Homo sapiens: one gene and its partners. The protein of the gene in region 2 interacts with the protein of the main gene of each other region in a biochemical or structural test. Each region holds a gene or a part of one and is shown on either strand. Other genes may lie near its edges.

Region 1 (3,600 bases), on a different chromosome or scaffold from region 2:
ACCATAAATAGCTTCAACAATTCAGATCAGGTTTTTCTGCAAAGTGAGAGATGACAATATTCTTTTCAGTTTTTTTAAATTTTAGAATTGCAGGTTAAGAGACTGTGGACCTCTATAAATTCATGTAGGAATAGAAACAAGTCATCCGAAATTTAAGAGACCTTCCCTGAACCATCCCTCTTTTTGAAAAATTTTGACTCTTATATGAGAACCACTGAAAGTTTAAATATTAAAACAATAAATCTTTATTAAACAGTTTTCACGGCATTTTAAAATAAATTTAAAAAATAAATATTTGCATTATAGCAGAAAGTCACATGTATTGCATCAACTCACTTTTACAATTTAATGGCATGAGACAACTAAGCATCAGCACCATAAAACTGTTAAGATTTGTTTCTTAAATTCAAGGAAATAGCTCTAAAGCACTGCAGCATCAATAATTTTGAAAGCTATAACCCAGTGATTGGTGCTCATAGTAGCCAATGTTTCTTTTTATTACTGGCAACTGTGGAGACAGAGTTCTTCCAGTACTAAATATTAATAAGTTCTCTGATCGACAATCCCCCATCTATCAGTGTGTCAGGATTCACAAAGAAAAGAACTGCAGGTTATGTAGTATATTCCCTATCTGTGATTTAGGTTTGCACAAAGACACTTATTCTAGCAAAAAAGAAAAGATAGTGTTTCCACCATGCTACCTTTTTTTTCTTTTTATAGAGTCTCAGAGTAAGATTTAAATCATAATTTTTAACCTTTAAAAGTCTGTTCAAGTTCAATTACAACCATAGAAACTGTACTGGTATCAGAACATAACTATTTTATTACAAAACTTAACATTATTTACAAAATGAAAAAATAATCAAATGACTATTGCAGGCCAAAGTTAAAGGTTTTTCACTCAATGATTGAAGAAAAATTAAGCAATATTTCCATGCACTCACACCAGATCATTTCTGAAATATGCAAACTCTTAAAATTCATGTTAGTAAAACTTTAATGTATTCATAATACTTGCTATGTTTATTAGAAGATGGTCAAAAAAAATCCATGGTTCTGTACAATAATATTAACAGTTTGTTCATTTTCCTTTAATATTTTTTGGCTTCCATGAACACTCGTAGATTGAACATTCTGCAAGTAAGAATTATAATAGTACCTCTGTCACCTTGCTGAATTCATCACCACAAGAAAAACACAAATAGTTTAATGCTTTTGCACTAAACTGAATAGTTATAACTCCAAAGTTATATTAAACTGAAGCCTTCATTGTGATCAATAGCTTGGATCAGTTTAGAGCGTAGAGTTTCTTTTTCTGTATATTTTGGAAGATCCAGAAGATTAAAACAAGTATGGGAAACTGGGAGATACTCCTCACCACCTCCTGTGGACTGGATGACTAGTTTCAGACTCTTCATACCAAGAATAGGAATGCGATCACTACCTGTCAAAAATACTGCCAAGAAAGAAATCATTCAGTCAACCACTTCAAAACAAAAAGATACAGTAGCAAGTAATATTTGGTACAGTCGCTACAGCAGAGCTTCACTTTAACATCTGCTCTAACGTGTTATCTTACTTCCTAATTTGTGGAAGACAAGTTTTTTGAGACACATTCTAATTGCTCATCCACACAATATTTTTTCTTTAAAAGTATAATCTTAATACTGGCACAAAGGAAGTGCTTAATAAATGTTTGATAAGTGAGTATTTTGCCATTGCCAAAACATTTTGAGAGCCCTTTTTTGGAAAAGCCATTCAGAACTAGTTGACAAACCAAATACAAAATGCAGTTTTGATTATGATTTCTTTTTCTATTTGCTTCGTTTCTGTTATTTTTTTTAAATCAGAAATTTATAATGGGCAGCCAAAATTCAAATCATTCTTTTTTTTTTGAGACGAGTCTTGCTCAGTTGCCCAGGCTGGAGTGCAGTGTGCGGTCACAGTCACAGCAGCCTCGACCTCCTGGGCTCAAGCAATCCTCTCTACCTCAGCTTCTGGAGTAGCTGGGAGCACAGTCACCAAGCCCAGGGCTAATTTTTATAGAGATGAGGTTTTGCCATGTTGCCCAGGCTCAAATCACTCTTAAAGAGTAATGATTTCTCATCCTTATGACACACAGAAGAATTTGACCAAGATTCTCGGAGGTTGCCAAATCATTCCTGGCAAAAGCAGGAGTATCAAAGGAAATGTCACCGATTTGGACACATAAATTCTGACAACTTTAAAAATAAGTCAAATTTCAATTAGAATACAGACTTTAACAGAAGAAAGATACACAGGCATCAGTTATAAATGAGGGAACTAAGGCCTGAAAAAGCTTTATTTTATATAGAAATTGCCAAAGTTTTAGTCTTGAAGCAAAAAGAAAAAGAAAAAGAAAATGAAGACCAAACAGAGAAAAGAGCAATACAGTTGGCCCTCCGTATCTGTGAGCTCTGTATCCATGGATTGAACCGACTGCAAATCGAAAATATTTTCAAAAAATGGATGCTTGTGACTGTACTGAATGTGTCAACTGTTTTTCTTGACATTGGTCCCTCAACAATACAGTATAACAACTATTTACATAGCATTTACATTGTATGAGGTATTAATAACATGTACATTCATGTGTCACTTAACGATGATGATATGTTCTGAGAAATGCATCATTAGGTGATTTCATTCTGTAAACATCATATATTTACACAACCTAGACAGTATATAGTCTACTACACACCTAGGCTACATGATATAGCCCTATTGCTCCTAGGCTACAAACCTGTACAGCATGTTACTGTACTGAATTCTGTAGGTAACTGTAACATAACAGTAGGTATTTGTGTATCTAAACATAGAAAAGGTACAGTAGCTGTATTATAATCTTACAGGACCACTATCGTATATATGGTCTGTCATTCACTGAAAAGTCATTATGTGGCACATGACTGTAATCTAGAGAAGATTTAAAGTATAAGGATATGTGTAGGTTATATGCAAATACTATGCCAATTTATACAAGAAACTTGAGCATCTACTGGATTTGGGTATCCTTGGCAGGGAGGTCTTGGAATCAATCCCCCATGTATGCCAAAGGATGACTATACTCCAGAGATCTTTTTAGAAATCTAAAAGGAATTCTACAATCCTAGTTTATTGTAACCACAGTTTATTGTAACTATAACATAGCTATAGTTTGCTTTCATTTCCAAGTTAGCTTCCATTTTACTTCATAGAATGAATCAATGCTATTTTGAAGGCAAACTGAATTTAGCCTTTGAAATAAGAAAATACATGTACTGAAGAGTGCAGATAGTTCTGTTTCAAAAAAATTACTTGAAGATTAAAACAGGGCTTTGGAATAATACTATAATTAGATTCCAGTCTCATAAAGTATACAACTAGTTAGAAATACTTACACAGAAACTGTTTCTTCTTTTCCAATGGTAATTCGTGAAATACTTCCCAAAAAATTTTTATCGTAGGATGTTCTGCCCAATATTCCCCTTTGTATTCTGTATTCTAAAAACAACATAATCTTTTATTAGTATTAAGGGACACACTGGCTAATATATTAGCACATAAAGCTAACATGGTCCAGTAGTTTGCAACTTGTGC
Region 2 (3,820 bases):
AAGGCCTCTCCTGGGGCTGCAGGTGCAGACAACCTGGACTACCACCAGCTCCACTGCGCGGCGGCATCCTCCCTTCCCGGGCCTCCCTCTCAACACGGGGTGCCATAAAGGAAACCCCACACCCCTGGCTGGCTGACCACTCGTGTGGTCTCAAGTCCAGGTACCCAGTGTGGGGACTTGGCTCTGCTGCATGCCCACTTCATTTCTTCATCTGTAGAAGGGTGGGGAGCTCAGAGCCCCCTCTGGGACAGGATCGGGGGAGAGGGGTCCCTGCAGGTGGGTCCTCATGCTGTCCTTGGCCCTCCCTTGCGGGGAGGAAGGCCTGGTCTTCCCAAATCAGCAGTCCCAGCTCTGCCCAGAGGAGTGGGAGGGCCCAGGGAAGGGCCAGGGACACCCCGAGACACCTTAGGAAGCAGATGTTCAGTCCTCACTTCATGACAGTCTTCTTGTTACAAAACAATAGATCTTTGTAGAGGGAAGGAGGTGAGAGCCTGGTACTAAATCTGCGGCGCCGTGACCAGGCCTCCCTGTGGCCTCTGCGCAACTCCTTCCAGGCTTTTTTTCTCTACACAGGTGGTTACATTTTAGACTTTTTTTTTTTTTTTTTAAATTGCTGAAGTCATAGAACAGCAATGGAGAGAATTTCGAGAAGAAACAATAGGCCCACTTCGGGTCACCGGCCTTGTAACTCCTGGCGCAACCCTCCCATCACCCGGCTCGCTGGTGTCGGGGACCTGGGGTCACAGGCCCACCGCCCATCGTCACCTCCTTTGCCCCGTGAACCGGAGCCGTCTCCTCCCAGCAGGTGCACGGCCGCCAGGTGGAAATCCCCGCCTTCCCGTCTCAGTTACCCCCCGTCCCACTCCAGGCCCAGCAAGGCGCCTCCAGCCCTGCGGGGGGCGAAAGTGGGCAGTGGTGGCCGCTTGGGCGGGGATTCCTAACGCCCTGAGGGGCTGCCAGCCCGTGGGCCCCGCCCCCGCCGCTCGCACCCACCCGCGTTGTCCCGCGACCCCCACAGTCCTGCGCTCTCCGCGGCCCCCCACAAGCCGGCCCTCCGTCCCCGGCCCCTCGCGCCGCCCCGCACGCGTGTGTCCCCCTCCGCCCGCCCCGTGCTTCCCGGTGCCCGGAGGTGCCGGCAACTTTGTTGACCAAATTCCTGAACGCGTCTGAGCCGCGGGCTAAAAATAACCGGCTCAGCGCGCCGCGCTCTGCCGGGCCGCGCGGTGTCACCCGTGTCCAGAGGCCCGGAGGTCCCGCTGCCGCCGCCGCCGCCGCTAGCGGAGCTGCCCCCGGCCCCCAGGCCCGGCCGCAAACCCAGGGGGCCGAGGGGGCGTCCCGCCGCGTGGCCCGAGGCGGACGAGGCCCCGAGGGGGTCCCCGGGCGCGGTCCCCGTCTGCTTCCCCGGACTCTCCGGCCGCCGGGTGTGGGAGCTGAGGCCCCTGGAGACGGCAGTTGTCCCCTGAGGCGGCGCGCCCTCTGCCCGTGCAGTGCCCCGTGATGGCCACCAGAGGGCCCTGCCCTCTCCTCTAGCCGGCGGCCCGTCCCTACCTCTTCCCACAGCTGTTTCCCGCAGGAGATTGACAGCTGGGCTCTGAGTTGCCATGGGGATAAGCAAATGAGGGCGGCGGGGCTGGGGCTCCGATTGGCCCGGGGGCGCGCGCCCCTCCCGGGGAGGCGGGCCCAGGCACCCGGCTCTATAAAGGGGCGCGCGCGGCTTCGCGTTTAGCCGTGGGAGGCGGGGCCGGCCGGCGGCGCGGGTGGGGCGCGGGAGCGGTCCCGGAGCAGCCCGAGGCGGCGGCCGCGGGGAGGAGGCGGCGACGCGGGCCCGGGGTCGCCCGAGACACCTGGCCAGCGGTGCCCCTAGCGCGCCGCCCCGGAGTTGACCACGTGAAACTTTTCCCTGCGCCCCTCGGCGCCGCCGCCCCGCGCCGGCGCCCCCCCGCCCCCGCCGGGACCGCCGCCCGCGGGGAGCAGGGGGGGGAGAGGCCTGCAGCTCCCCCCCCACTCCCACGCCGCCCGTCGGGGCGCGGCCGGGCGCGGGCCCCGGGCGATGGCCGCGGAGCTGGCGATGGGCGCCGAGCTGCCCAGCAGCCCGCTGGCCATCGAGTACGTCAACGACTTCGACCTGATGAAGTTCGAGGTGAAGAAGGAGCCTCCCGAGGCCGAGCGCTTCTGCCACCGCCTGCCGCCAGGCTCGCTGTCCTCGACGCCGCTCAGCACGCCCTGCTCCTCCGTGCCCTCCTCGCCCAGCTTCTGCGCGCCCAGCCCGGGCACCGGCGGCGGCGGCGGCGCGGGGGGCGGCGGCGGCTCGTCTCAGGCCGGGGGCGCCCCCGGGCCGCCGAGCGGGGGCCCCGGCGCCGTCGGGGGCACCTCGGGGAAGCCGGCGCTGGAGGATCTGTACTGGATGAGCGGCTACCAGCATCACCTCAACCCCGAGGCGCTCAACCTGACGCCCGAGGACGCGGTGGAGGCGCTCATCGGCAGCGGCCACCACGGCGCGCACCACGGCGCGCACCACCCGGCGGCCGCCGCAGCCTACGAGGCTTTCCGCGGCCCGGGCTTCGCGGGCGGCGGCGGAGCGGACGACATGGGCGCCGGCCACCACCACGGCGCGCACCACGCCGCCCACCATCACCACGCCGCCCACCACCACCACCACCACCACCACCACCATGGCGGCGCGGGACACGGCGGTGGCGCGGGCCACCACGTGCGCCTGGAGGAGCGCTTCTCCGACGACCAGCTGGTGTCCATGTCGGTGCGCGAGCTGAACCGGCAGCTCCGCGGCTTCAGCAAGGAGGAGGTCATCCGGCTCAAGCAGAAGCGGCGCACGCTCAAGAACCGCGGCTACGCGCAGTCCTGCCGCTTCAAGCGGGTGCAGCAGCGGCACATTCTGGAGAGCGAGAAGTGCCAACTCCAGAGCCAGGTGGAGCAGCTGAAGCTGGAGGTGGGGCGCCTGGCCAAAGAGCGGGACCTGTACAAGGAGAAATACGAGAAGCTGGCGGGCCGGGGCGGCCCCGGGAGCGCGGGCGGGGCCGGTTTCCCGCGGGAGCCTTCGCCGCCGCAGGCCGGTCCCGGCGGGGCCAAGGGCACGGCCGACTTCTTCCTGTAGGCGCCGGACCCCGAGCCCGCGCCGCCGTCGCCGGGGACAAGTTCGCGCAGGCCTCTCGGGGCCTCGGCTCGGACTCCGCGGTACAGGACGTGGACACCAGGCCCGGCCCGGCCGTGCTGGCCCCGGTGCCAAGTCTGCGGGCGCGGGGCTGGAGGCCCCTTCGCTCCCGGTCCCCGTTCGCGCGCGTCGGCCCGGGTCGCCGTCCTGAGGTTGAGCGGAGAACGGTGATTTCTAAGGAAACTTGAGCCAGGTCTAACTTCTTTCCAAGCGTCCGCTTGTACATACGTTGAACGTGGTTCTCCGTTCCCACCTTCGCCCTGCCAGCCTAGAGGGACCGCGCTGCCGTCCCTTCCCGGGTGGCCCCTGCCTGCCCCCGCCCTCCTTCGTTCTCTTCTCAGCCTCCCTTTCCTTGCCTTTTTTAACTTCCCCTCCCCGTTTTAAAATCGGTCTTATTTTCGAAGTATTTATAATTATTATGCTTGGTGATTAGAAAAGAAAACCTTGGAGGAAGCCCCTTCTTTCCCCAGCCGGGGTCCGCCCTCAGTCGCGAGTCACAGCATGAGTCGCTCGCCAGGAGGGGCCCGGCCCCTGCCTGCCCCCTCCCCGCTTGCCCCCGACCCTGCTACCGGCGTTCCTTGGAGGTCGAAGCCAGGGACGTCACCCGTGCTGTGTCCAGGCCTGCTGTCCTACTATGCTCAACCGGGGGTG
Region 3 (3,820 bases), on a different chromosome or scaffold from region 2:
GGCTGCCAGTTGAAAGGAAAAGGCAACTATTTGCGGTGCAGGTGTGACCAGAAGTGGCTGAGGCACGGCAGCGATGACAGTGAGTAGCGGCGACGACACAGGCCGCGCCGGAACTTGCCGCTCGCGCGGGGCCGCAAAGGACCCGGGGGCTACCCCGTGCCTCCGGCTCCCGGCTCCGGGAAAGACCTTCTGTTCTCTGCCGGCGCGGAGGGCCGCAGGAACCAGGCCTCTCGCCTCCCCACCAGCTAGGCAGGGAGCGCCCATCTCCTGAAAAATTACTTCCTGGGAAGCGGTGCGGGGAGACAGCTTCAATTGCTTTCGGTTGGTGAAAAACGAATTCGCTTCTCAGATTGCTCTCCTAGCTGCCAGGCTCTGACGTTGAGAGGCCGGCTTTCAGCCTCGCGGTGAGCCCCCGCCTTGCCCCAGCCCCTTCCTCTTTACTCCTATCCTGTTTCCACAACCAGGGCAGCCGGACACTGCTGGGTTGGGTGCAGTTTCCTTTCCCTCCCTGCCTTTCTGCACCTACCTGGCGCCCCTAGATGCCTGCCCTTCCTTAACGAAGCGCGGGAAGTGAGGGGCTCCGGGGCTCCGAAGGCGATCTGGGGCCTGGGTCCGAGGCACCCATGTCCCTACTCGGCTTCCTCGATGTGCACTACCAAGGAGTCCTGGGTTCCCGGATCCCCTGCTGGAGGAGGATCTGTAGTGTCCGAAGCCCTGAGCAGGACTCAGCCTCGGCTCTCTAAGGATGGCGCTGGGAGCGCGGGCTCCTGGGGCGAAGATGGGCTCAGCGAACAGGGAAGGAAGGAGTGTACACTCCCAGGAGAGCTGGGTGGGAAAGATGCTTCAAACTGGACTAGAGAAGCACTGCTGTGAGGGATGGGCTCGGTAGCTCCCTGATGTAGTTTAGTCCGACCCGGGATAATCCAAGGCGCCGGGAACAGAGAGAAGGCTCCTGGGAGCGCTTGGAGGTAAGGCGGCCGGGTGAGAACCGGAAAGGAGAAAGGGGTGGGGAGCCAGGCTTACCTGCCCACTGGCCTTTCCACGCGTGAGCTTTGGTAGACTTCATCCATGGGAAAGGCAGCTGGACGCGGTTGGGCTCCTCCAGGACGCCCGGCTCGGCTCCCTCCGGGAAGGGCCCGGCGGGCGGGTGGGGGAGCGCGAGCTGAGCCGGGAGGTGGTGGTGAAGGTGCGCCACCGCGGGGTCGTCGGCGAGGGGGGGCACCTCGTACGGGGAGATGTCCGGGGGGCTGCCCTGCTCCAGCGCGCCCAGGGCGCCAGGGAACGGGTGCGGCGGCGGCGGCGGGGGCTGGCGGCCCATGTACAGGCACGCAGGGGGGCTGGCGCTGAACTCCGGCGCCGGGCCTCGCTGGAACGCGCATGGGTCCTTGTAAAGCTGCGTGGCCGCGTAGTACTGCTCCTCGCCGTTCATGGCTGCGGCCCGGGATTGGGCACCGGGAGCCGGGAGCCGGGAGCCGGGAGTCGGGAGCTGGAGCCGGGGATTTGGCACTGTGTGGCGTTCCCACTCCCGGCGCCACCCCTGCTCGCTTTGACAGCTCCGCACTGATCTCAGAGGGAACCCACAGCCAGCGCGGACCGGCGGGCCGGCCGCCGCACCATAGGCTCCGCGGGGCCCCACGTGGTTCAGCCGGGGGCCGTGATTGGCCTGGCTGGCCGCACTAAGAGGCTAGGCCCAGGTACCCGCGAGCACCTGCTTTTGTTCCAATTTTCTCTCTCAGCTGAGTTTGCTGCACACTCCTGAACGGGCAGCTGGCGGTGCTCCCCAAAATGGGCGCTCACGAAAACATTAGAACCACTCATTTATAGAAACATTTTCACCGTGGCTTAAAAGTTTCTATTTTCCTATATTTTTCTATTTTCTATTTTCCTATATTTTTTCTATTATATTTGATAATGGACATAGTGTGTTTGTTAATTGATGTAGTTTACAAGGAGACATGTTGAGTTTTTAATTTTTTATTTAACTGTTGCGGAATACGATAAAAAAAAAGTTTGCAGACCCAGCTCTCTAGGTCAGAAGCATTTGATTCTATTTTATTTATGAAGTTTGTTCACAGCCACAAAGATGTCGGTTAAAAAACACACGAAACTCTGGCATTCGTTGTGTGTTTTTACTTGTGGATGTGCTGCAAGTACTTCTGGGGTGTAAACGGTAACTTCTGAAGCATTCACAGAGACTTTTTTAAATTCTTTTTTTTAAAAAATTGAAGGGTATTACAAATTTGGGTTTTGGAAAATTGGGGCCCATTTGGCCAGCCCGGAACGTAGCTTCCCAATACAGCGAGGGGGAAAGACGCGGCCTTCCTCTTGGGGCTGCGAAGCAGGGGCAGGTGTTGGCACGGGGGTTCCAGACCCTTGACGACTCTCTACGGGCCGGGACCCTGGCGGAGTTTGCCGGCAGAGAACACTCACTCTCTTCTGCTTGCAATTGAAATAAGGCAAGCAGGAGAGGGGGAAGTGGAGGAAGAGTTACATATTTAGAAAAAGAAATAAAAACGCTGCATTTTCCATGATAACATCTGTGCTTGGCTTCAAACCATTCAGTAACTTCTGGGCATTCTGGGGTCCTGACTTAAACAGGGCCACTTTTTCTGCACCCACTGACGCGGATGGATGACCTCCGGGTGGCGGTGACGTCCAACCCCCTGCCTGGGCATGATCCGCTAGGCCTGGCGGCCTGACCAGCCTCTGACTGGATACTCCCGAAATGAGGACGTTTCTCGAAACGCCACCGTGGGTTTTAGAAAAACTAGACAGCTTTGCAGAAACGTCTCAGCAAGAGAGAGCTTGAACCACAAAGAACCAAGCCAGAGAAAAATCACTGCTCCGCCTTTCCTAAACAACGCACCAACATCCAGACCTTTGAGAGTCAATCTTAATGTATTTCTTTCTTCCTACTGGAAATATTTGTGTTTTAAGTGCGGATTGAGTGCTCTATTCTGAGGACTCTTTATTTTTATTAAAAGACAAAAAAGCCAGTCGGGAATGTGGACTTCTCTGCAGATTCCTTCTCTTGCGGGAGGCCGGTATAGTCTCAGCATTTGCTTCGATGTGTGAGAACTCATGTGTGTGGCTTCCTGGCCTGTGGCCTCATGTGTGTGGCTCTGATGTGTGGCTCCCTGGCTTGTAGATGCCCTTGCTGTCACCGAAGACAGGCCAAGGGAAGCACGGCGGCGGGCGGGGAGAGTTTCGGTGATTTCTTCAGGGAAAAGTGCCACCTGCAGTTTTGGTGGGGGCAGAGAGTGAAAGGCCGTGGGGCCCGGGCACCTAATCTCTGTGCGCCCGCGTCAATGAGTCCATTGTCTGCGGCCGCGGAGAACTCTACCCTATCACCCTGGCCGCGAGTGACCACATCGATCAGGAGGGCAGGCTGGAGGGGGTTGCCTGGCCGCGGCGTGTTGACCCTTGGAGATAATCTGCCGAGTCGCCGAGGGTTGACTTGGCGACGCGGTTATGAGCGGACGGCAAGCTCCGCTCAGGACAAAGATCGGCCACTTTTCCCCTCCCCCTCCTTTTCCTCCCCCTTCCCCTCCTCCCTGGGCACCCCTACACCCACTCTGGACTCAGTCTGCGCCCCACTCTCCCTCCCCTGCTCCCTGCCTCGCCTGCCACCCCCGGAGTGTTTACTTTGCACTTCTCAACTAATTGCACATTTCTGTAAATTGGTCTCCATTTCGATGCTTCATTTGCTTCCATTTAATATTTTTGCTCGGCCCTGCAGAAAGAAAAGAGGCTCTCAGCAGAAAGCAAATCCGCCGGTTGCGGTCGCCGGCAAAAACCCGGGTACCCGCGGCTGTGGGGG

What was found.
Region 1: of the proteins of MAFA (region 2) and HERC4, one has a biochemical effect on the other in vitro, tested with the Homo sapiens proteins (one study listed by BioGRID).
Region 3: the proteins of MAFA (region 2) and PDX1 form a complex in vitro, tested with the Homo sapiens proteins (one study listed by BioGRID).

The regions. Positions count from the first base shown.
Region 1 is NC_000010.11:67,921,684-67,925,283, forward strand, and holds the end of HERC4 (probable E3 ubiquitin-protein ligase HERC4), read right to left. Parts: intron 3,505-3,600; coding exon 3,402-3,504; intron 1,457-3,401; coding exon 1,248-1,456; 3' UTR 222-1,247; downstream 1-221. UniProt on the Homo sapiens protein: Probable E3 ubiquitin-protein ligase involved in either protein trafficking or in the distribution of cellular structures. Required for spermatozoon maturation and fertility, and for the removal of the cytoplasmic droplet of the spermatozoon.
Region 2 is NC_000008.11:143,428,637-143,432,456, reverse strand, and holds the start of MAFA (transcription factor MafA), read left to right. Parts: upstream 1-1,724; 5' UTR 1,725-2,050; coding exon 2,051-3,112; 3' UTR 3,113-3,820. UniProt on the Homo sapiens protein: Transcription factor that activates insulin gene expression. Acts synergistically with NEUROD1/BETA2 and PDX1. Binds the insulin enhancer C1/RIPE3b element. Binds to consensus TRE-type MARE 5'-TGCTGACTCAGCA-3' DNA sequence.
Region 3 is NC_000013.11:27,917,748-27,921,567, reverse strand, and holds the start of PDX1 (pancreas/duodenum homeobox protein 1), read right to left. Parts: upstream 1,569-3,820; 5' UTR 1,430-1,568; coding exon 1,024-1,429; intron 1-1,023. UniProt on the Homo sapiens protein: Activates insulin, somatostatin, glucokinase, islet amyloid polypeptide and glucose transporter type 2 gene transcription. Particularly involved in glucose-dependent regulation of insulin gene transcription.